6 separate regions of the Homo sapiens genome follow, and all the other regions are linked to region 6. The links come from fine-mapping of genetic effects on gene expression. A gene starts in region 6. Each other region holds a variant in brackets. All regions are shown on one strand. Distances are from middle to middle.

Evidence for each region. PIP is the estimated chance that this variant, and not a neighbour inherited with it, causes the effect.
Region 1: its variant is fine-mapped to the expression of LRPAP1 in pancreas (GTEx, PIP 0.95).
Region 2: its variant is fine-mapped to the expression of LRPAP1 in whole blood (TOPMed, PIP above 0.99).
Region 3: its variant is fine-mapped to the expression of LRPAP1 in pancreas (GTEx, PIP 0.93).
Region 4: its variant is fine-mapped to the expression of LRPAP1 in skeletal muscle (GTEx, PIP above 0.99).
Region 5: its variant is fine-mapped to the expression of LRPAP1 in unexposed skin (GTEx, PIP 0.99).

Annotation. Positions count from the first base shown.
Region 1 is chr4:3,495,725-3,499,809 of GRCh38, reverse strand. It overlaps a transcript of DOK7 not described here. Among named protein-coding and RNA genes, the nearest start is that of DOK7, 34 kb to the right of the region's middle. The variant T/G (reference allele first, on the strand shown) is at 2,400.
Region 2 is chr4:3,557,198-3,561,282 of GRCh38, reverse strand. No RefSeq gene overlaps it. Among named protein-coding and RNA genes, the nearest start is that of LINC00955, 18 kb to the left of the region's middle. The variant C/G (reference allele first, on the strand shown) is at 2,023.
Region 3 is chr4:3,489,122-3,493,196 of GRCh38, reverse strand. DOK7 (docking protein 7) reads right to left here. Exons shown (of 7, transcript NM_173660.5): 6 at 3,401-3,520; 7 at 1-438. Among named protein-coding and RNA genes, the nearest start is that of DOK7, 28 kb to the right of the region's middle. RefSeq lists an enhancer at 74-595 and a silencer at 3,376-3,485. The variant T/C (reference allele first, on the strand shown) is at 1,579.
Region 4 is chr4:3,509,281-3,513,365 of GRCh38, reverse strand. It overlaps LRPAP1 (LDL receptor related protein associated protein 1), which reads left to right. Exons shown (of 8, transcript NM_002337.4): 8 at 330-4,085. The coding sequence ends at 392. Among named protein-coding and RNA genes, the nearest start is that of LRPAP1, 21 kb to the left of the region's middle. RefSeq lists an enhancer at 3,318-4,085. The variant G/A (reference allele first, on the strand shown) is at 2,530.
Region 5 is chr4:4,039,750-4,043,834 of GRCh38, reverse strand. LOC101928217 (a long non-coding RNA gene) reads right to left here. Exons shown (of 5, transcript XR_001741554.2): 4 at 1,686-1,774. Among named protein-coding and RNA genes, the nearest start is that of OTOP1, 190 kb to the left of the region's middle. The variant C/T (reference allele first, on the strand shown) is at 1,599.
Region 6 is chr4:3,530,481-3,534,565 of GRCh38, reverse strand. It overlaps LRPAP1 (LDL receptor related protein associated protein 1), which reads left to right and starts at 2,144. Exons shown (of 8, transcript NM_002337.4): 1 at 2,144-2,357. The coding sequence starts at 2,154. RefSeq lists silencers at 1,905-1,964, 2,405-2,654 and an enhancer at 2,155-2,364.

The DNA of each region.
Region 1 (4,085 bases), 35 kb after region 6:
GCACCTCCCCCTCACTGTCCTCCGGGGTCACCCCCACCTGCTGCAGGCTCCAGGGACCCCCTCCTCTCCTGCACACAGGCCCACGCTCCCTCTGCATCCCCTCCAGGACACCCAGGTGCCCCACACCCTCTCCCCCCTCATAGGAGCTACTCCCTTCCCCCGACCCCCTTCCTAATAGCTGATGGTTCTGTCTGCACACCCCATTGGTGCTGGGGAGGGCAGAGCAGGAGCAGGATAGGAGGGGACCCCACAGGCCCGGCTGGGTGGGACTTGAGGCAGGCTCCCACCTTAGGGGGTTGGACGCACACCGGCCCCTCCTCTGCAGGCCTGAGGGCTCCGCACCGTGGGCACCCAGGTTCTACAGGAAGGACCCCGTTCTCCAGTGCCTCCTCCCATTCTTGTCATCAGGACCTCGTGAGGGAACGCACAGCCACGTGAGGCAGGGGAGGTGACAGCAAGTCCCCCCCCATTCCCTGAGCCAGTGGCTGGGAGACACAGCCAAGCCCCACCCACAGTGACCTCCCCACCCCCAGCACACTCCGAGCCCTCAGAATTCAGGTGGGGGCTGGGATCCAGCGGGTGACAGCCCTGCAGGGTCGGCCTCCCTGAAACACCTGCCTGTCCAGGGGAGGGGCCTGACTCAAGGCTGGGCCTCCCTGCCCCAGGGATGCATCCTCAGCAGACCAGGTTCTCCTGTGGCCACCCGCTGCCCGGCACCTGCCGCAGACATCCACTCTGCCTGGCTCCTCTCACCCTTGTCCCCGTCACTCCCTGCAGCAGGGCTAGGGGTGAGGAACTTTCACTTGCTTGCTCCCAGTGGGGAAACTGAGGCCAGGGAGACCTGACTCGCTGATTCTGCAGGCAGCAGCTGGGACAGAGCGAGATGGAGCCCAGGTCGACGAGGGTTCGCTCACCTGATTCCATGAACTAAAGCAACCAACACAATTCTGCCCCAACCCTGCCTGGCCCTGAGGCCCTGGGGAGACCCCCCTCCTGCAAATGTGTGGTCCTAGAGGGCTGGTCCCCTCGGAATGCCAGGACCCCTTCATCGAGATGAGCCACAGAACATAGCGGCCAAGTTCTGGTGCCCAGGCAGGCACCTGGGCCAGCAGGGACAGGGCCAGCAGGGCCAGCTGCCTAGAGGAGGGGGCATGGCTGAGGGGCTAGGCCAAGAGGGGGTGGTGGGAGAGGCAGGTGGGGTGAGGGCCTGGGGAGAGCTGAGGGAGCGCCGGGGCCTGGCGTCTGGAAAGGGGGCCTTGAAGCCAAGGGGCAGGGCCGGGGCTTGCCCACGGTGGGGCTGGACACCCCCCTGCAGCCTGGTACCTCGTTTTAGGATTGCATCCGTTCTTCCAAGTTTGCTCCCAAGGTTGGGCGGTGAGGGGTGAGGGTGGAAGCAGGAAGGAGCATGAGGCCTGACTGCAGGGAAAGGGGACGAATGTTCCCAACACCACCCGGAGTCACACGGGGGCTGTAAGCAGCGCTGGGCCAGCAGTGTGTCCGTATCTGTATCTCCCCCAAGGCCACTGGCTCCAGGGCCCTCAGTGCTCCTCCTCCCGTCCCCTCCTTGGGACTTGGATTTTGCTTCGGCTTCTGTGAGCATCGCTTCCAGTACCTCGGATACTCTTTCAGTGAAGCAGCAACCGGGAATCGGCTGGCCCTTCTGCACTCTCCTCCCAGACCCCGCCCTGGGCTGGCAGCCCGACGCTACCACTTGGGCCTGGCTCATCTCTGTCCCATGACAGACCCCAGGCGCCCCTCCTGAGCCCCCGGCCTCTGTGGAAAAGATTCACATCCTCCAGCAGATACTGGGCCTGTCCCCTTGATCCCCACACCTGTGTCCCAGGGCACCCCTGTCTGGGTAAAAGACATCTGAAGGGTACGGGTGGCCTCGGGGAGGCAACAGCAGGCTGCCCAGGAGGACCCTTGGGGCAGGGCTGGCCCCACCACCTCTGGTCTGGTGGCTGCCTCAGCACACTGGACTGCAGGGATCGGTGTCCAGCCCAGGGCCAAGGCAGACTGGTGGGGGCTTTCCCAAGCTGCCCCTGCCTGCCTGTGGCTCCGCCCCCATCCCTGACTGTCCCCTCCAGGCCTGCCTGGGCGCCTCCCCCACCCTGGGTGTCCTCTCCAGGCCTGCCTGGACCCCGCCCCCCTGTAGGTGCCACCTGCCTGGGAAGAAGGGATTGAGGAATCCAAGGTTTAGCCCGCAGTGGCTCCTACTCCACAAGGAAACAGGCACAGAACTGGCCCTGATGCCACCCATCTACCCCAGGCCAGCCGTCCTCATCTCCAGCCTCTCAGCCCTGCCCAACCTTCAGCAGGGCTCTGTCCCCAGTGACTGCCAGGCTTCTCTAGGGAGACCCTGGGGATCCGTACCTTCCCACTGCCTCCCTGCCTGGCCC[T/G]CCCTCCCAACCTGGCCCCAAAACTGCACCTGCCAGGGCACCAATGCCCTGCCCTTCGCCGAGTCGCTCACCACCAGCCCAGCCTCCACAGGCCCCCACCGCTGTCTGAGGACACAGCCCCTCCTCCCTGAGCTGGGGCTCCTGGACCCCAACCCTGACTGCCTTCCTGCCATGCCCCCTCCCAGGAACAGGTCCACACTCAGGGCTTGGGGACCCGTGGACCCCAGTCTGTGTCTCCCAACCTTCAGTCCATCCTCCAGCAGCCTGCCCTCTACCCACTGCCCTGCTGTCCACACCTGGGCTGGGACTCACCCCCACTGCCCACTGCCACCCAGCAACCACTGTCAACTGTCACCCAACACCCACTGCCACCCAACATCCACTGTCAGCCAACAACCACTTTCACCACATTGCCCACATTCCCTGCTGGCAGTGGGCCCCCCACCCTCCCCCCTCCCCATCTAGTCAAACTCTGGCTGCCATCTGCGCCCACCCAGACTCCCGCCTTCCTGTCCCCGAGCTCTGGGGGACTGGCTCCAGGTGCCTACCTGAATGTGCTGTCGCAGGTCCTGGGGCTGAGGCTGCCGCTCCCTAGACCAAAGAGAACCTGGGTCAGTGCATCCTTCAGTCTTCCCCTCATCCTGTGCCCGGGGGGCCACCGAGAACAAGGACACTACCCCCCAAGAGTGACACAGGCTGGGGGACCTGGGTCACCTGCAGGGAGTCCAGCCCGCCATACCTGATGCCTTCTCTCCAGGGCCCTTTGCCCCACAGCCCCCAGATCTCCGGGCCACCCACTGCCTTGACCACCCAGCCTGGTGGTAGCCCCCATAACCACCCATGGGGGAGCTGGAGGCCTCGGCATCTGGGGAGGGGGCGGTTCCCAGCCCTGAGGCCCAGTCCAGCCCCACTATTTTGCTATTAGAGCTTTATCGGAGGAGTACCACGCCCATGCAAGGTAGTGTCTGGGCTCCGACCTCAGAGCTGAGCGGCTGCTCCGAGGGTGCCTGTGATTTCCTTTCCCGTCCTTGAGGGTGTGGGCCCTGCTCTCTGCAGCTGGTGGGGAAGGCTCCGCAGGGGGGTGCCCCTGGAAAATGCCCCACTGGGAGGCCCCAGATGAGATGAGCAAAGTTCCCTGACACTGCAGGCGACCTTCTCCTGGGCCTCTGAAGTGGGCCGTGCCTAACGGGGTGCCCCAAGTCCCTGGAGGAGCCTATGGTGGGGTCTGAAGGGCGCTTGCGGGAGGGACAGCGGCCCACGGCTGAGCAGAGGCTTCCTGCCCACCTCCAGCCCAGATGAGCAGAAGCGGGGCCAGCCCAAGACAATGTCCCACATGGGTTCCGGCAGCCGGCAGCTAGAAAGAAGGCGCAGCACCCTCCTGTTCTGAGGGGCCTCGTGGGTGGGGGCTGGGAGGCCGGAAATGGGGGCTCAGCACCTAGCACTGGTGCAGGCCAGACTCAAGGGCAGACAGTCACAGGGCTGGGACCCTCACACGAGGCCCCCTGAGCAAACTGAGCTGGTCTAGACTTTGAGAACCTTTGACAACAGGCCGACACCCCCTGAGCTCATCACATACACAGGCTCCTGAGAGGGCCCCTCCCCAGCTGCTCCCGGTGGGGGCAGGCGGGTAGGTGTGGATGGTGCAGAGCCCGAACCAGCGAAGGTCCACCCTGTCCCCTGCCTGGC
Region 2 (4,085 bases), 27 kb before region 6:
TCACAGGCCCTTACTTCACCTTGGCAAAATAAGTGTTTTAAATTTATTGAGACCTGTCTCAGATATCTTTTGGTTTACAACCTGATGGAGGAGTTGGCACTGATAGAAGGGTTTTGGGTTTCCAGCACCTGCCTTCATGCCTTACTTCTCGGTGGGCTCAGGACTCAGAATGGAAAAGAGTCCCAGGAGACCCCAGTAGCTCTTCAACTCTTTTACTCTCGCTGTTTTCTCTCCTTTACAGCAGACACCACTATCTGCAAAGGGTCCTGTTCGCTGCTTCTGCCTGCCAGGAAGCACAGCCTAGAGGGCAGTGTCCATGACTGTCCTGAGTAACCACTGGGTCCCCAGCATCTCAGCTTCACAGCTGTTCCGTAATGACCTTCAGATGGAGGGACGAGGCGGGTGGGTGGGGGGATGGATGGATGGATGCATGGATGGGTGGATGGGTGGATAGGTGAGTGGGTGGGTGGATGGATGAGTGGGTGCATGGGCAGGTATGTGGATAGATGGAAGTATGGGTAGATGGATGGGTGGATGGATGGGTCAATACGTGGATGGGTGGGTGGGTGAATGGGTGGATGGATGGATGAATGGATGAGTAGATGGATGCATGAATGGATGGTTGGATGGATGGTGGATGGATGGGTGAGTAGGTGGATGGACAGATGGGGAATGGATGGATAGATGAACAAATAAGTGATGGATGGGTGGGTGTATGGATGGATGGGTGGGTGGATGGGTGGGTGGGTGGATGGGTGTGTGGGTGGATGGATGGATGTGTAGATGGGTGGATGGATAAGTGGATGGATGGGTGAATGGGTGGATAAGTAGATGAATGGGTGGGTGGAGAAATACATGAGTGTGTGGATGAATAGGTTACAGAGTAAAATGCCACCACCAGAGCAGTGCAACAGCGTGCTTTGCACTCAGCTCTGCCATGGAAAAAGTGGTTCCTTCCCAGGCTCTCACCAGGCTCACATGGGCTCCAGACCCCTGCACCCCCAACCAGACTGGGGACACAGGGACTGTCTGCTCAGATCTGCATCCATGCACCTGGCCAACACCAAGTGAGTCACAGGGAACCAGGTGGCCTGAGAGAAGGACCGATGACAGATGGCCTCACCCATGTCGCCAGGAGGCTTGGGTCCCAGTCCTGTGGCCCCACCAGCCAAGAGCTTGTGGACATTCAGAATCAGGCTTGCTGGTTTAAGCCCGGGCATGCAGCACCAACATTGTCTGCCCATGGGCTCTCTGGGTCGTGCCCTGCCTGACTCAGTCCCTGCATCACCAGTGCCAGGCCAGGCACAGACAGGCTCAGTGGGGTGGGCTAAGTAGTGCTGGGGACCCAAACCAGGCATCAGAGGGATTGAGATGCCCCCAGGCTGACTCCCACTCAAGCGGGTCCCCCCGCCTCCCCCCGAGCCCATCCCCTCTGTCCACCTGCTGCCACTCTGACAGCTACAACCAACCCAGGCTCGGGGCTGCCTGGACTCTGCCTACAACTTCACAGGCTCACTCCCATGCTGTCCTTCACACCTGGAGAAGTGCCAAGGTTACCAGTGCCACAGAACAAACAGCCGCATGCACTCTGCACCCTGCTCAGCCATTGAGACAGCAGATTCTGTAGCTTTGGGCAGTTCCCACATCCTTCCAGTCCTGATCTTTCCCCTGGAAGCCAAGGAGCATTCAGCGCCTTCTCTACGTGCTCTTGGCCCCTGTCCACAACAAAGGCCACAGGTCTCTTGTTGTGGAACTATGAGTGAACCCAGCGTTCTCCCCAGGGACCCCAGCACAAAACAAGCTCTCAACACACATGAGTGAATAAAATTGTCCCAGAAAGCGGGAGACTTTACACAGTGGCTACAATGTCCCTAGTACACTGCCACAGTCCAGAAGGGAGAGAAGGGGCTGTGCACACCAGGAAGCCAGAAGCCCACATGCACCTGCACAGGGTCTGTGCATGGAGCTCCGGCAGGTCCAATCTCTTGGCCTTCAGAATAATGATGTAAATACAGGCACAAA[C/G]ATGGAGCAGGCGCCACTCAATGTGCAAACCCTCCCCCTTCTTCTGGTGAGGCCAGAAGTACCTAGGTAGGAGCAGCCCCTACCTCCGACCACCTCCCTCCCTGCAGTGGGAATAGCAGCCCAATCCCCAGGCTGCAGGGATCCACAGGCTGTGCAAGTGTGGCTGTACCCCAGCATGCCCTGGTGCGAAGCTGTGCCCAGGGAGATGTTATCTGCACCCCAGACTGCCTGTGGTGCTGCAGAGTGGTGCCGAGGACGGAGCAGGGCACACCTGGAGTCTATATCACCTGCCTTCCCTAGGGAGTCTTGGGCCCTCTCCACATTCAAGGCGAGGGGAGCAGGGGATCTCCACGAAGACCCCCTGAGCACCTCCCTTCTCTTTTTGCTGATAAATAACCCAAGGCTTAAGGGGTTTTGGAACCAAGACATGGTCACTGATGTTAGAGGAATGGCTCGCTCTCCCTCCTAGCATCCCTACCAGGTAAGGGGGGGCAATTGGTTGCTCCAAGCACCCTGGTTGCTGTAGGAAGGAGAATGGAGACATCGGGCTGAGCCCACTGGCCTCCTTCAGCGCTCGGGCTCTCCCCTGCAGACAGCCTTCCTCAGCAGCCGCACAGCTCAGGGCTTCTCCTCCCTGGGTGCCAGTAACCCCAGGTAAGCCTCTGGCTGCCCGGCAATTCCAATACCCAGAGGGAGGAGCCAACAGGGCAGGCCACGTTCTCACCAAGCCATCTGCAGAGGGGTCAGGTCCACCCTGAGTCCTCCCTTCTCAGTAACAAGCTGCTACTGTGTTTTCCATTGTCCCACAGCTGATTTGTCAGTCAGTGCAATCACAGCGAGGACAAACACTAATGCCCCTCCTGAGACCTCTCTTCCGGCTGATGGTGTGGACCTTGACTCCACAGCAGGTGTCTGCAGGCCCTCCAGCTGGCCCTCGGTAGCCTGGAGTGGCTCATCCTGGACAGACTCACCGCTATGACGCAGGGGGAACTGCCAGGAGTCCCTGAGCGAGGTGATCTGAGAAATGCCATGGCAGTGTTCTAAGCCAGCAGCCTGGCTTACTCACAACCTCTCTGCTGTGTGACCTTGAGCAAGTGCCTTAACCTCTCTGAGCCTCAGCTTGCCCCTCTGTTAAAGAATGATCATATATGACACCTAACAACGTTATGTGGAGTATCAGCAACAAGGAATCCACTGCAGCCAGTGTTGCAGGTGCAACTGGCTGGGGCTGGTGTCACGGGTGGTAAAAGAATTTACCGAGACAGTCGTGGGTAAAGAAAGTCTGAAGACACCTTGCAAGAGAACAGCAGGCAGCATGGCAGAGAGAAGGCCACCTCCCCAGGGGCAGGGGCCAGGGGGAAGTTTGATAGGGTCACACTGGAGAGGCGACATGCAGACAGGGTCATGCTGGAGAGGCCACATGCAAACAGAGTCACACTGGAGAGGCCACATGTGGATACAGTCATGCTGGAGAGGCGACATGCAGACAGGGTCACTCTGGAGAGGCCACACGCAGACAGGGTCACGCTGGAGAGGCCCCACGCAGACAGGGTCACGCTGGAGAGGCCCCACGCAGACAGGGTCACGCTGGAGAGGCCCCACGCAGACAGGGTCACGCAGGAGAGGCCCCACGCAGACAGGGTCACGCTGGAGAGGCCCCACGCAGACAGGGTCACGCTGGAGAGGCCCCACGCAGACAGGGTCACGCTGGAGAGGCCCCACGCAGACAGGGTCACGCTGGAGAGGCCCCACGCAGACAGCATCACGCTGGAGAGGCCACATGCAGACAGGGTCACTCTGGAGAGGCCACATGCAGACAGGGTCACTCTGGAGAGGCCACATGCAGACAGGGTCATGCTGGAGAGGCTACATGTGGAAACGGTCACACTGGAGAGGCGACATGCAAACAGGGTCACGCTGGAGAGGCCACATGCAGACAGGGTCACGCTGGAGAGGCCCCATGCAGACAGGGTCATGCTGCTGGAGCTAACGTGCAGAGTGAGGTATTTGGTAACATGAGGTTGTGCAAGCGGGCTGCTTGTGGTTAGCCATTTCTTAGAACA
Region 3 (4,075 bases), 41 kb after region 6:
GGGCCCGCAGGGAGGTGGGCACCTGGTACTCGACTGTCCCGGGCAGGCAGGTGCACAGGCTGGGCTCGGGGGCCCCCGCTGCTGGCAGGCTGAGCAGTGAGCCCAGTTCATCTGTGGCCCGCCACACGTCCAGGCTGCTGCCCGCGTAGGACGAGAGGCTGCTGGAGTAAGAGGAGTGGCTGCCAGTGGCGATGCCGCTGTCCGAGGAGCTCTGGCGGCCAACCTCCTGCAGCTGCCGCGGACGCAGCGGCTTGGGGGGTGGCCTTGAGGCACCCACCATGGCTTCCCCGGCGGCCTGGGCAGCTGCTGGTCTAGGCCCCTCCTGTGACGTGCTGGCTGACGACGAGGATTGCTCTGGCCATGCGGTGAGCCGGCTGCTGGCGCTGACGTCCAAGTGACTGGCCTCTGAGGATGAGCTGGACAGGCTGCGGTCATCCCCTGAGACAGAGCAGGAAGCCAAGGCAGTTGTGGGGGTACAGGGGTCTGGGCAGGACGTGGCTGATGCCTGGTGGACCCCCACAGGCCAGCACTCTCTGGTCTCGCCCCACCCCTTCCAGCCCCCAAGCCCCGGGGCCTACAGCAGAAACCTGGCTTCACCAACAACAACCCCTCTACCCCTCATCCACTCCTGTTCTTTGTCCGTTCCTGTCCTTCTGCCACCTGTTCTCCTACGGCCTGCGCCCCTCCCTCTCAGCACCCCTGCCACTACCTTGGTCCCCGCCTCCTCCCCTTCCCTAGAGCTCCCCACCCTCCCTGCCTAACACCCCACGCTCCATACCCAGCCATCCCGACTACCTTCCAGGGCCACCTGGGGCAGCTTGCCCTCCGCACCATCACGGCCCCAGGCTGGTCTGGACGTCCCTTCCCCAAGAACTTCCCAGGCCCTGCCAGCCTGGACACGAGGCACCAGCTGTGCCCACACACCTCGACTCGCCCCCTGCCCTCACCATGCTGGCGTCCTTGCCTCACTCCCAGTCTCCCTCCCTGCGGGGGATGAGAAGCACACCCAATGCAGATCCCAGGCTGCCTCCCGCCTGCCAGGCCAGGCCCCTCCCGTGCTCTTGGGAAAGCCACTTTCATCTCTGCTGCGTCTCTAAGCTGCCTGCTCTGCCTTCCAGGGCTCCCAAATGGAAAGCAGCTGTGAGTCACCCCCAGGAAGGCAAAAGCTTATTGCAAACCTGAGTCCCCTCCTCCTGGGGCAGGGCAGGAGGGGAGATGACCACTGTCTGCTTGGTGCCCTCTGGGGGACAAGCAGTGATCAGAGGGCACTGGCCGGACCAGCACGGCTCCTGCACTTGGCCGTGGGAACACAGGTCACCCATGCAGCCACCCTTCGGGGAGCACAGCGGCCCCTCCTGCTCTGCCAGCCCCTTCCACCACCACCTCTCCCCACAATGGCAACAGAGCCAGAGCCACCGGCAGCTGAGGAGGTGCCTCTGCTCCTGGGCAGCCAGCTCACCTGCCTTAGAGCCTTTTGTCTGGGCACAGAAGGTAAAACCAACATGCAGGGCCTTGGTCTCCCCCAGCCACAAGCTGGTGGGCAGGAAAGGATTCAAAGGCTCTCAGGGCAGAACCACC[T/C]TTCCCGTCAGCACCTCAGACCAGAGTTTAGTAAATGTGGAACCATAAGTGAAGGAAGGAATGAATGAATAGGTGGGAGAAGGAAGAAATGAATGAACAGACAGAAGGAAGGAATAAGCGGAGGGACAAGGAAAGAATGAATGAGTGAGAGAGAAATTGAGTAGGGAGAGAAGAAAGAAATGAATGAGCAGGGGAAGAAGGAAAGAAGGAAGCTGGGGTGAGCAGGAAGGAATGAACGAGCAGGGGGAGCAGAGGAAGGAAGGAACAAGCAGGCGAAGAAGGAAGGAATGAATGAGCAGGGGGAGAAGGCAGGAATGAATGAGCGGGGGGGCGGAGGAAGGAATGAATGAAGGAATGAATGAGCAAGGGGAGAAGGAATGAAAGAGCAGCGGGAGAAGGAAGGAATGAGCAGGGGGGAAGGAATGAGCAGGGGGGAAGGAATGAATGAGCAGGAGGAAGAAGGAAGGAAGGAATGGGGGGAAGGGAGAAACGAATGAACGAGCAGGGGGAGAGGGAAGGAATTAATGAGCAGGAGTGGGGAGAAGGAAGGAATGAGCCGGGGGAAAAGAAAGGAAGGAATGGGGGGGAAGGAAGGAATGAATGAGCAGGAAGAAGAAGGAAGGAATGAATGAGCAGGAGGGAAATGAAGAAATGAGCAGGGGGAGAAGGAATGAATGAGCAGGGGAAGAAGGAAGGAATGAATGAGCAGAGGAGAGAAGGAAGAAATTAATGAGCAGGAGGGTAATGAAGGAATGAAATGAGTGGGGGGGAAGGAAGGAATGAATGGGGGGAAGGCAGGAATGAATGAGCGGGGGGGCAGAGGAAGGAATGAATGAGCCGGGGGAGAAGGAAAGAAGGAATGAGCAGGAGGAAGAAGGAAGGAAGGAATGAGTGGGGGGAAATGAAGGAATGCATGAGGGGGGAAGGAAGGAAGGAATGCGGGGAAGGGAGGAATGAATGAGCAGGAGGGAAATGAACGAGCAGGCGGAGAGGGAAGGAATGAACGAGCAGGGAGAGAAGAAATGAAGGAATGAGCAGAGAGAGAAGGAAAAAACGAATGAGCAGGGGGAGAAGGAAGGAACGAATGAGCGGGGGGGTGAAGGAAAGAATGAGCAGGGGGAAAAGGAAGGAATGAATGAGCAGAGGGAGAAGAAAGGAATGAATGAGCAGGAGAGAAATGAAGGAATGAATGAGCGGGGCGGTGGGGGGGGTGAAAGAAGGACTGAATGAGCAGGGGGTGGGGGGAAGGAAGGAATGAATGAGTGTGGGGAAAAGGAAGGAATGAATGGAGGTAAGGCAAGAATGAGCCGGGGGGGCGGAGGAAGAAATGAATGAGCAAGGTGGGGAAGGAAGGAATGAATGAGCAGGGAGAAAAGGAAGGAATGAATGAGGGGGTGAAGACAGGAATGAATGAGGGGGGAAGGAATGAGTGGGGGGGGCGGAGGAAGAAATGAATGAGCAGGGTGGGGAAGGAAGGAATGAATGAGCAGGGAGAAAAGGAATGAATGGGGGTGAAGAAAGGAATGAATGAGGGGGTGAAGAAAGGAATGGGGGGAGGAAGGAATTAATGAGTAGGAGGAAGAAGGAAGGAATGAATGAGCAGGAGGAGAAGGAAGGAATGAGCAGGGTGGTGGGGAAGGAAGGATGAATGAGTAGCGGGCGGGGCGGGGAGTTGGGGGAAGAATGAATGAGCAGGAGACAGAAGGAATGAATGAATGAGCAGAGGGAGCCTGCAGCCCCCACACATGCATGGATGCCTCCTGAGCTCTCCTGCTGGAGGCTTAGCCGAGGTCCCACAGCCCAGGTCAGCCCCCGGCCCTACCTCCACTGCCCGGCCTGCCCGCATGTGAGAGGAGGCTCAGCCGCTTCTCCAGCTGTAGGGTTTCCAGGGCTTCCTGGGCCACACGCTCCTCCACAGTCGAGGGTCCCGGGGGACTTGGGTCTGTGGCAGAGAGAAGACTCGGTGGAGGAGGTGGCCACCACCGCCCACCCTCGCCCGCAGGCACCAGGCCCAGCCTGACTCAGTGGTTATCCCCCTCTGTGGAGTGGCAGTCCCCTGGGAGTCCCCGCTCCTCCCGATGCCTCATCCCAGAGGCTGGCCCTCAAACGCAGACACCCACACCACCCCTATCCAGGCCACCATGCGCCCAGCTGGGTCCCTGTGCCCGTGGATGGCCCTGCCACCTGCCCACTCACCAGGACCCCACGCCGGCCAGACCCCTCCTTCCTCATCTTCCTCACCACCGAGTTTTTCAATTTTCTGTTCCAAAAAATGACCAGCCCCTCCCCCATCCCCAGGGCCGGCCTCGCTGCAAGAGGGGCTGCCTGCCCCTCATTCACGGTGCCCATTTCTCACAGGCTCCCCTCCACCTGGGGAAATGCCCGCCCACCTTGCAGTGTCCCCACCGTTCCCTGGGGTCTCGGATGGAGACTCATACTGTGCCCAAGGCTCAGAGCATGGTGGTCTGCGGACCCTCGGCCCCACCTAGCCCCTCCC
Region 4 (4,085 bases), 21 kb after region 6:
ACTGCACTCCAGCCTGGGTGACAGAGCGAGACCCTTTCAGTAAGTAAATAAATAACACCATGGGCCTATCACAGAGACCCTGAGCTTTCCACTTCAGCATGAACTGCTCCTGGCTGGTGGCTCTTAGCGTTCTTTGGTGGGATTTTCTAGTTAGTACTGAGCTGCTTTTGTGATTTGAGCATTTCTGGATGGGTGTGGAATTGGAAAGTCAGATGTGCAGGGCTTGCGCCTTTTCCTTTTGGATCGCGCGTCTCCTGACATGAGGCTGAGCTCACAGAGCTGGCCTCGAGGCGCGCTGTCCCCAGCTGATGAGACGTTTCTGTCCACAGGTGAAGAAGCATCTGCAGGACCTGTCCGGCAGGATCTCCAGAGCTCGGCACAACGAACTCTGAAGGCATTGGGGAGCCCAGCCCGGCAGGGAAGAGGCCAGCGTGAAGGACCTGGGCTCTTGGCCGTGGCATTTCCGTGGACAGCCCGCCGTCAGGGTGGCTGGGGCTGGCACGGGTGTCGAGGCAGGAAGGATTGTTTCTGGTGACTGCAGCCGCTGCCGTCGCGACACAGGGCTTGGTGGTGGTAGCATTTGGGTCTGAGATCGGCCCAGCTCTGACTGAAGGGGCTTGGCTTCCACTCAGCATCAGCGTGGCAGTCACCACCCCAGTGAGGACCTCGATGTCCAGCTGCTGTCAGGTCTGATAGTCCTCTGCTAAAACAACACGATTTACATAAAAAATCTTACACATCTGCCACCGGAAATACCATGCACAGAGTCCTTAAAAAATAGAGTGCAGTATTTAAACCACCCGCTTGTTGGCTGGTCACTAAGTGTCCTGGTGGCTGGGGCCGGAGCCAGTGCTCTTGAAGGGATCGCGTCATAGCCAGCTTCCCCTCTGGGCCCTGTGGGTCTTTGCAGCCAACCTCCTTTTCCCGTGAGACGGCCCGGCCTGATTTAAAGCCAAGAGCGCTTGAGTTGAGTTTGAGGGGAAGATGTGGAGCGTGTGGTTCTGTGGACAGTCAGAGACTGTGGCCTGGGGGCAGCGTCTTTCAACTCTCACCTCTGCAGCTCAGGGACCTCGGGAGACCTCACCAAACCTGCAGGGCCTCCGTGTCCCTAAGTGTGCTGTGTAAATGCCCCATCTCATGGGGGAGAGACAGCCACGGAGGCCTTCCTCTGACCATAGCTGATGGACTGGCGGTTGCTCAGGTCCGGCTCCGAGAATGTTCCTGTGTCTGAGCCTGGAAGAGGCTCGGGTCTGGCTCCAGGCGTGGTTCCCTTCCCGTGTCTGAGCCTGGAAGAGGCTCGGGTCCGGCTCCGAGCGTGGTTCCCTTCCCGTGTCTGAGCCTGGAAGAGGCTCGGGTCCGGCTCCGAGCGTGGTTCCCTTCCCGTGTCTGAGCCTGGAAGAGGCTCGGGTCCGGCTCCGAGCGTGGTTCCCTTCCCGTGTCTGAGCCTGGAAGAGGCTCGGGTCCGGCTCCGAGCGTGGTTCCCTTCCCGTGTCTGAGCCTGGAAGAGGCTCGGGTCCGGCTCTGGGCGTGGTTCCCTTCCCGTGTCTGAGCCTGGAAGAGGCTCGGGTCCGGCTCTGGGCGTGGTTCCCGTGTCTGAGCCTGGAAGAGGCTCGGGTCCGGGTCCAGCTCCGAGCGTGGTTCCCGTGTTTGAACCTGGAAGAGGCTCCACCAGGCGTATTGTGTTTTGACTGCAGCTGGATCTTGGCTTGACTGTTGAGATCTGCCAAACATCCGCTAAGCTATCATTTCTGAGAAAGGTCAAGGCTAGAGGCAGCATGTCGGGAGTTGGCGCATCAGGGTTGGAAGGGCCCCAGGGTACAGCATGTGGGTGCCTGTTCCTTTGTGGACTTGTGTGTGTGTGGCTGGTGGGGCGGGGGGTGGATTCTGGTTCTTTTTTTTCCCATTATCCTGAGAGCCTTAAGGTACTCAGTGTGTTGGTGAGACTCAGCCCTGTCATCTAGCAGAAGTGTGTTCCTTTTCATTGCTGTATAGTATTCCATTGCATGACTGTCCTGTGCTCTGATTTTAATGCACTTTATTGTGGGTGGATATTTGAGTTGCTTCCTTTCTGGGGTAATAACACTCACTTGGAAATAGCTGTGGTGAACACTCGTGTGGGGGTGGGGGTGGGGGCCAACTCTAGGAGCACCTAATGGATCTTACGAAGCGTGTTGTCCAAGTATAGAGATGATTCCAAAGTGGTTGGACTGTGTTTCTTTCTCCCAGCTGGGTGGAAGGAGAACACTAGTGGATTGCTGAGACTTGGTGCTCGGTATTTTTAATTATGGACAGCCTGGCTGGCGTTTTGTGGTGTCTAATTGCGGAGTAGCGTGTCTTACTGTATAATGGCCTCTTTTGTATGTGGGAGACCATGGTGTTGAGGGGAGGCAGTTACACAAAAAACCCAGATACCGAGTGTTAGTTCCATGGGTGTGGCTGGTCATGGTGCGCACTCACGAAGGATGTAGGTGATGCCCTCCACTCCGCAGAGCCAGTCCCACAGGGGTACCCATTCTGACTCCTACCACC[G/A]CAGCTCCCTACCTCCCGCCTGCCATGGGTTCCACGTGCATGGCTCTGGGCAGTCTGTGTCTTTGCGTGCGTCTGTGTATGTCTGCGTGTATCTGCTTACATTCGCTCAGCATCTGAGATTCACCCAGGCTTTTGCGTGGATCAGCGGCAGACTCCTGATTGCCGCGTGGCGGCCTGTTGTGTGGGTGTGTGCCGCGTGTGTATCCAGTCCCTACTCAGGAGTGTACGTTTCCAGTGTGGGTTGCAGTCAGGATCCATTTCTCCCTTAACTTTCAGATTATTTGCTGCATAGGCTTTTTTCTCCTAATTTGGCGCCTTTGTCAGAAATCAACTGACCTACCTGTGTGGGTCTGTTTCTGTTTGTCCTTACGCTCTTGCCATTGCCACACTTTAGACAAGGTCTTGCTCTGTCCCTCAGGCTGGAGTGCAGTAGCGTGATCTCAGCTCACTGCACCCTTGACCTCCCATACTCCAGCAATCCCCTCGCCTCAGTCTCCTGAGTAGTAGCTGCGACCACAGGCGTGTGTCACCACACCCGGCTGATTTTATTTTTTTTATTTTTATTTTTTTTGTAGAGACGGGGTTTTACTATGTTGCCCAGGCAGGTCTTGATCTGGGCTCAAGTGATGCTCCTGTCTCAGCCTCCCAAACTACTGGGATTACAGGTTGTAGGTGTGAGCCATGGTGCCCGGCCGCCACACTGTCTTGGCTACAGTTGGGTTTATAATAAACCCTGAATCGAGGTGATGTGCATTTTCCAACTCTTCTTTTTAAAGATTCTTGTGGCTGTTTATGTCCTTGGTGTTTCCATATATGTTTTACAATCAGTGTCTCAATTTCTACCAAAAAAACATGCCTTCTGGAATTTCAATAGCAATTCCCTTGAACGCATTTTTGAATACCTTTTCTGAATGTCTTGAATACATGTTGGGAAGAATCGGTGTCTTAACAGTCTCCAGTGTCCACGCGTTGACTGCCGTGTGTGACTCCAGTCGGCGTCTCAACAGTCTCCAGTGTCCACGCGTTGACTGCCGTGTGTGACTCCAGTCGGCGTCTCAGCAGTCTCCAGTGTCCACGCGTTGACTGCCGTGTGTGACTCCAGTCGGCGTCTCAGCAGTCTCCAGTGTCCACGCGTTGACTGCCGTGTGTGACTCCAGTCGGCGTCTCAGCAGTCTCCGGTGTCCACGCGTTGACTGCCGTGTGTGACTCCAGTCGGCGTCTCAACAGTCTCCGGTGTCCACGCGTTGACTGCCGTGTGTGACTCCAGTCGGCGTCTCAACAGTCTCCGGTGTCCACGCGTTGACTGCCGTGTGTGACTCCAGTCGGCGTCTCAACAGTCTCCGGTGTCCACGCGTTGACTGCCGTGTGTGACTCCAGTCGGCGTCTCAACAGTCTCCGGTGTCCACGCGTTGACTGCCGTGTGTGACTCCAGTCGGCGTCTCAACAGTCTCCGGTGTCCACGCGTTGACTGCCGTGTGTGACTCCAGTCGGCGTCTCAACAGTCTCCGGTGTCCACGCGTTGACTGCCGTGTGTGACTCCAGTCGGCGTCTCAACA
Region 5 (4,085 bases), 510 kb before region 6:
ATCGCTGTTACCATGGGCCTAATTACAGTCACTGCAATGGCCACCACTGCCGGAATGGCATTACACCAGTCTACTCAAACAGCTCATTTTGTTAATGATTGGCAAGCCAATTCCACCCAAATGTGGAATTCTCAACAAGGCATCGATCAAAAATTGGCAAATCAAATTAATGATTTAAGACACTCTGTTATTTGGCTTGGAGATCGGGTAGTGAGTCTAGAACATCGCATGCAAATGCACTGCGATTGGAATACTTTGGATTTCTGCATCACCCCGTATTCCTATATCAAGACTGATCATTCATGGGGAAATGGTCAAAGGACACCTTCTAGGTAGAAAAGATAATTTATCACTGGACACAACTAAATTAAAAAAACAAATTTTTGAATCCTCCCAAGCTCACTTATCCATCATGCCTGGAGCTCAGACGTTAGATCAGGTGGCAGAAAATCTTTATGGATTAAACCCCACAACTTGGATTAAGTCTATTGGGGGCTCCACTATAGTAAATTTTGGAATTATGTTTCTCTGCTTAATCGGCTTGCTTTTAGTGTGCCGTACCAGTCAAATAATACTGTGTCAAAATCGAGAGAATGAACAAGCCTTCATCGCCATGGAACATTTACATAAAAAGAAAGGGAGAGATGTTGCGGGAAGTCAGGGACCCCAAACGGAGGGACCGGCTGAAGCCATGACAGAAGAACGTGGATTATGAAGATTTTATGGACATTTATTAGTTCCCCAAATTAATACTTTTGTAATTTCTTATGCCTGTGTTTACTGCAATCTCTAAACATAAATTTTGAAGATTTTATGGACACTTATCACTTCCCCAATCAATACCCTTGTGATTTCCTATGCCTGTCATTACTTTAATCTCTTAATCCTGTCAGCCGAGAAGGATGTATATCGTCTCAGGACCTGTAATAATTGCGTTAAGTACACAAATTGTACAGCATGTGTGTTTGAGCAATATGAAATGTGGGCACCCTGAAAAAAGAACAGGATCACAGCAATTGTTTAGGGAATAAGAGAGATAACCTTAAACTCTGACCACCGGCGAGCCGGGCAGAACAGAACCATATTTCTCTTTTTTCAAAAGCAAATGGGAGAAATATCATTGAATTCCTTTTCTCAGCATGGAACGCCCCTGAGAAAGAGAATGCGCACCTAGGGGTAGGTCTCTGAACTGGCCCCGTGGGGCGTACCTGTCTCCTATGGTCGAGATTGCAGAGGTGAAATAAACTCCAGTCTCCCATAGCACTCCCAGGCTTATTAGGAAGAGAAAATTCACACCTAATAAACTTTGGTCAGACAGGTTGATCTCAAAACCCTGTCTCCTGATAAGATGTTATCAACGACAATGGTGCCAAAACTTCATTAACAATTTTAATTTCACTTCCGTCCTGTGGTCCTGTGATCTTGCCCTGTCTCCACTTGCCTTGTGATATTCTATTACTCTGTTAAGTACTTGATGTCTGTCACCCACACCTATTTGTATACTCCCTCCCCTTTTGAAACTCCCTATTAAAAACTTGCTGGTTTTTGTGGCTTGTGGGGCATCACAGATCCTACCAATGTGTGATGTCTCCCCCAGA[C/T]GCCCAGCTTTAAAATTTCTCTCTTTTGTACTCTGTCCTTTTATTTCTCAAGCCAGTCGACGCTTAGGAAAATAGAAAAGAACCTACCTGATTATCAGGGCAGGTCCCCCGATAGTGTTGGGTGGTGGTAATGCATTGATGAAGATGGCAGGCATGCCTCTGCCCTCCAGGAGTTTCTAGGATACAGAGGGGGACAAATAAAAAATAAGTAAATCCATGAAAGAAGTATAGGTGGAACCTGCACCCAATATTTCAATGTAGGTTCTTTCTATTTTCCCTAAGTGTCAGCCAGCTGAGAAATAGAGACACTACAAAGAGAGGAATTTTACAGCTGGGCTGCTGGGGGTGACATTACACATCAGTAGGACCGTGATTCCCCCTGAGTCTCAGATGAGCAAGTTTTTATTAAGGGCTTCAAAAGGGGAGGGTGTGTAAGAACAGGGAGTATGTACAAAGGTCACATGCTTCAAAGGGTAAAAAGCAGAACTACTACTAAGGGTCTAACAAAGATCACATGCTTCTGAGGGAACAGGACAAAGGGCAAAAGCAGAACTACTGATAAGTGTCCAGCAAAGATCACAAAGCAAAGGGCAAAAGCAGAACCACTGATAAGGGTCTATGTTCATTCACGCATGTATTGTCTTGATAAACATCTTAAACAACAGAAAACAGGGTTCAAGAGCAGAGAACCAGTCTGACCACAGGTATATCAGGGCGGAGTTTTTCTCCACCCTAGTAAGCCTTTGGGTACTGCAGGAGACCAGGGCGTATCTCAGTCCTTATCTCAACCGCATAAGACAGATATTCCCAGAGCGGCCATTTATAGACCTTCCCCCAGGAATGCATTCCTTTCCCAGGGTATTACTATTAATATTCCTTGCTAGGAAAAGAATTTAGCGATATCTCTCCTACTTGCACATCCGTTTATAGACTCTGCAAGAAGAAACATATGGCTCTTTTTGCCCAACCCAGCAGGCAGTCAGACCTTATGGTTGTCTTCCTTTGTTCCCTAAAAATTGCTGTTATTCTCTTCTTTTTCAAGGTGCACTGATTTCATATTGTTGAAACACACGTTTTACAATCAATTTGTACAGTTAACACAATTATCACAGTGGTCCTGAGGTGATGTACATCCTTAGCTTATGAATATAACAGAATTAAGAGATTAAAGACAGGCATAACAAATTATAAAAGTATTATTTGGGAACTGATAAATGTCCATGAAATCTTCACCATTTATGTTCCTCTGCCATGGCTCCAGCCAGTCCCTCTCCATTTGGGGTCCCTGACTTCCCACAACAAGAAACAATAAGAGGTTAAGGTGGAGAAGAGCAGGGAAGTCCACTTTATAAAGGGGTCAGGAAAGAGCTGTCTGTGGAAGCACCATTTTAGCTGAGACCTAAAGGATGGTCTAATCTGGGGAGGTGCAGAGGAAAATCATTCCAGGCTGAAGCAGTAAGTGCAAAGGCCCTGTTGTGGAAAAAGGTTTGAAAGTCCAAGAAAACAAAAGGAGGCCATAGTGGCTGAAATAGAGTAGGCCAAGGGCAGGAGATAGGAGAGGGCTGGAGAGGTGGCAGGAACAGGCAGAAGACTCGGGGTCTCGATTTTATTCTATGTACCATGGGCAGGAAAGGCAGGGATGAGACTCAATGGACACCTTAAGATCACTGAAGCTGCCAGGTAGGAAATGGATTGCTGAGCATGGAGAGCAGGTGCAGAGTACCAGTTAAGACCAGTTAGGAGGCTGCTGTAGCCCAGCTGAGATAGTGGTGTCCTAGGCAAAGATAATGACAGTGAAGCTAGAGAGAGTGGACAAGTTGGATAAAGTTTAGAATCACAGGACTTGCTGACTGGAGAAGAGAGCAAAAGCAGAGTTAGCACAACACATGAGTTATGACCACCTTGAGCAGCTCAGCAGGGGGTGGTGCCATTTGCAGAACAGAGATGGCATGAACAGAACCCATGGAGAAGGAGGAGGAAAAAGAGAGTTTGGCTTTGGGTTTTCTTTAAGACATGGTCTCTGGCTGTGTCACCCAGGCTGGAGTGCACTGGTGCAATCATAGCTCTTTGCAGCCTCGAACTCCTGGGCTCAAGTGATCCTCCTGCCTCAGCCTGCCATGTAGCAGGACTACAGATCCTACAGATGCACATCACCATGCCTAGCTTTTTTTTTTTTTTTTTTTTTTTTTTTTTTTTTTTTTTTTTTTTTTTGTAGATAGGGAGTCTCACTGTGTTTTCAAGGCTGGCTTCAAACTCCTGGCCTCAAGTAATCCTCCCACCTCAGCCTCCCATAGCACTGGGATTACAGCCATCACCTACCAATCCAAGCCATGAGTTTGGCTTTGGATGTAACAAGGTTGAGGTGTTCACGAGTTGACAAATGGAAAAAACAAAAAAGAAGTTGAGTGTTGGCCGGGCGCGGTGGCTCACGCCTGTAGTCCCAGCACTTTGGGAGGCCGAGGCGGGTGGATCATGAGGTCAGGAGAT
Region 6 (4,085 bases):
TCACCCGTCGCATTCTCCCTCCTCCCCCAGCCCAGGTATCCTCCATCCTTTAGCCATCCCCTGACTTTCTTTAGTTTCATTGCCTGTGTATGCAGCCACGAATAAAATATTGCTTAGTTATCTGGGAAACCGGGCTGTATAGGAAAAGGGCTCTTAGAACCCCACACCACTGTCAGATGCAGGATCCCAGAAGACTCTGCTCCCAGTCCAGCTTCCAATTCCTGTGGGTTTATAACGGGCCTTTCTAGAGACACTGGGGGCAGGATTCACAGAGCTGGAACATTTGCAGTTAGGACCACATTCCAGATGACCAACAGGGACATGCTTGGGGGGGATAGGCCAATTTGGACTATCCCCTTCTAAGCCCACCAAGACCTACCTGTAGCTCTCAGGAGTGGGGTCAGGGCAAAACATGTATGTGGGGTAAAACAGGTGACCTCTGATTCTAGGCACCAGGAGATGGAGAGAAGAGCAGGAACGAGGGAACACAAGGGGAAGGCAGGCACAGGTGAGAATCTAGGCCAGGCTCACCTGGCCATTCTGTCCTGAGGCTTAAAAACATGCAATGATGGCAATGACAGCATTTGATCTGTCTCTGGAGTCACTTCGCATGAGGTCATTCTCCCTCCACCACCCTCCTGGGGGATTCCTTTACCTCCTCTCCCCCATACATCCCATATTGGGAACTTGTGCTTCCAGCTAAGATGCAGTAACAGACTGAATTTACCCTCTTGCCTGAAACAACTCAACAGCTGGAAAAAAAGAAATGAAACGATGGCTCTGAAAATACTAGAAAAGCAGCACAGGACAGAAGCAGATCACCTTGATTCCAGGGACCTGAAATCTTCTCTGGAACAACACAAGATACAATTTAAATGTAAATTAGGGTAGGCCCAGTGGCCCACGCCTGTAATCCCAGCACTTTGGGGGACCAAGACGGGAGGGTTGCTTGAGCCCAGGAGTTGGAGAACAGCCTGGACAACATAGGGAGACCTAATTTCTACCAAAAAATTTCAAAAATTAGCTGGGCGTGGTGACACGCACCTATAGTTCCAGCTACTTGGGAGGCTGAGGCAGGAGGATCGCTTTAGCCCAGGAGGTCGAGGCTGCAGTGAGCCATGATCATGCCACTGCACTCCAGCCTCGATGACAGAGACCCTATCCCCCCACGCAAAAAAAGGAAATGAATTAACATTAATTCCTCTCAAGATGCCCAGGCTCTATTCACCCCCTTTGTCATTGTCCCTCCAGTTGGAAATTCCTCCCTCCCCCCGCAAAATCCCGCCCACCCTTGGAGGCCTTTTCAGATCATTCTTGCCAGATGAGCTCCCCTTGTCCCTTCTCTGAGCCCAAAGGGGCCCAGCTGCTGTCTGTCTCCCTCCTTCCCCTTGTTTCCCGCGCTACCTCCAGGGCACTTCCCAACTCACTGGCCAAGCCCCCAACGAGCGGTCTATGCTAACTTTGGCTCTGTGAATTTCCTAGAGTGTCATGGGTTGGGGAAAAGCGCGCGAAGTCCTGCCTTGCAGCAGGCGCGAGAGCAGGCGCTTGGGACGCGGGTTGGGGCAGGGGCCCCGGGACGTAGGGGGACGTCTGCGCGGCCCTGCGTCCCCGGGACAACCTGGCCTGGGCTTACCCACGGCCAGGCGCTCCGCGGAGGGCAGAAGCGGGCTGGGCCAGGCTCCTCAGCGCCAGGCCCGGGCCGCAGTGCCAACCCCGCAACGGCACTGGACATGCAAGAGTCGGCGTCAGTGCGCGTGAAGCCGGAGCATTATCAGGCTCAGCCAAACGCGGCCCGGTTCTTGGGCTTTCCGCTCTTTCTGTGGGGCAGAGAGGGAAAGAGGCCTCGAGTCGTGCGGGCTCCAGGCTCCGGGCTCTGGGTGAGGCCTGATCCCTGCTCCCACCCGGCCACCCTCATTCTCCAGTTGTATCCCCTGCCAGAGTCTGCAGCCTCGGGCCGCGGCGTGGTTGCCTGGGAAACGCTTGCGCCTGCGCAGGGCTTCCTAGGCGCTGGAGTCCGCCGGCGGCCTCGCCGCTGCCGGCCGCTCACGGAGGAACTACAATTCCCAGGAGACCGCGCGGTGGGTGGGGGCGGGGTAGTGGGCGGGGCATCGGCAGGCTAGGTTTTCTCCGCGCAGCGCCAGTCGCAGAGGAAGATGGCGCCGCGGAGGGTCAGGTCGTTTCTGCGCGGGCTCCCGGCGCTGCTACTGCTGCTGCTCTTCCTCGGGCCCTGGCCCGCTGCGAGCCACGGCGGCAAGTACTCGCGGGAGAAGAACCAGCCCAAGCCGTCCCCGAAACGCGAGTCCGGAGAGGAGTTCCGCATGGAGAAGTTGAACCAGCTGTGGGAGAAGGCCCAGCGAGTGAGCGCGGCCCGCGGTCGGTGGAGCGGGGCCTGGGGGCGGGGGCCGTGGTTGGGGTCGTTGGAGCGGGGCCCAGGGGTCGGAGGCGGAGGGGGGCGCAGCCGGGGCACCTGTGCCCTACGCGCCCTGTCCTTGGCACAGCCTCCCCCAAGTGTCAGGTGGGGCGCCCCGACCCCTTCTGCAGCAGGAAAGGTACCCGTGCCGGCGACGACGCCGTGTGAAGCAGGTGGCGGCCGGCACCCCGAGGGTCAGTGTCGCCCTCCCCAGCCTGGGCGGCCTGCTGACCCGAGCGTAGGGACAGAACCAGGCTAGATCACAGGTCTCCTGCCTCCCGAGCCTTTGCCTGTTCCCTCAACCTTATCTCCCTATGTGGGGAAACAAGAAAAACAAAATGTTGGGTAGAAAGACGTGTCCAGGGACAGAAGGAATCCCAGTAGCAAGCCCGTGCTTGTTCATTTGAGCGAGAAATGAGGAGGTGAGGAGATGGGATCGGTTTAGAGCACATAAAACGCGACCTTGGGAATGCTGAAAGTCAGTCTTAACAGGGCGCTCACCTGACCTCTCCTTCATTTGAGAGATGAGGGTACGGAGGCCCCGAGGGGAAAGGGCACCCCCAAGGTGGCTCGGCCGGTGGGGCCCCCCGGGACAACAGCTTCCTAATTGGTGCGTGACCCTGGGCCAGCTGCTCTCTTCATTAAGATACGGTTGCTTCATTTGTTAGGTGTTCCTGAAAACACCTGAAATGGGTGTTTTCGAACTATGCCGACCATCTGGGCCTCATTATCTCATCTCAAATGCAGGAGTCAGATTAGATCTCTGTCTCAATAGTCCAGTTTTAAGCATTCCTGAGTCTTTGAGAGGGAAAGTAAGTGATTTGCAGAATAAGAAGGAACTTTTGGAACGAAAAGGGAGAGGAGAAACAGGTGGGGGACAGACAGACGACAGACGGTTATAAGACTGCGTGGGGATGGGGATTGACGCCTGGGCATCAGCTCCACAGGCCCTTCCTGAACTGCTCCTGGGACCAGCAGTCAAGCCCCAGGCGTAATGTTCAGCCTGCGGAGGTGGGAGGTGGGAGAACGCTCTGGGCTGGAGCGGCAGGGCGGCTTCTTGGAGGAAGGGATTCTGGAGGGGCTGGGGACACGGCTGGGTTTGGATGTGTTGATGGCCTCCCAGCAGCAGGGAACAGGTGTGACCAGGAGCAGCCGGGATGCAGTGCTGCCTCCCCGTGCCCACTGCACTGGGCATCTGTTGAGTGGGTGGAGTCCCCCCTCCCCATGAGGAATGGGGAGCCCGAAATAGACTCCCTGACCGATTGGAGGTGGCGCTGAGGAAGTGCACTCGGACCCAGGAACCCCAGCGGCTCCCTTTTGGGTGCTGGCCCAAGTCTTCCACCTGCTCTGCAGGGCCGCCCTGGTGCGCTCCACCTTACCTCCAGCCACCTCCAGCTGGTCCTCTGTCTTTGTCAGCCCAGGCCTCCTGCAGCAATACACCTGCCCTCAGGCTGCCCCTGCACTGGTCCAGCTACCCTCGGGCTGCCCCTGCACTGTCCCCCGGTGCTGGGTGCTCGCCTGACCAGTTTCAGTCTTGGGTTGGGTCATGTCTCCTAAACCTCCCTGAGGTTCACTGGGCACCATGGTAGGGCGAGCTGCTCACCTCCACTTTGGACTGAGCCTTGGACTAGATGATCTTTCTGGTCCCTTTAAGTCCTGAAGTTCTAGTTGTGTG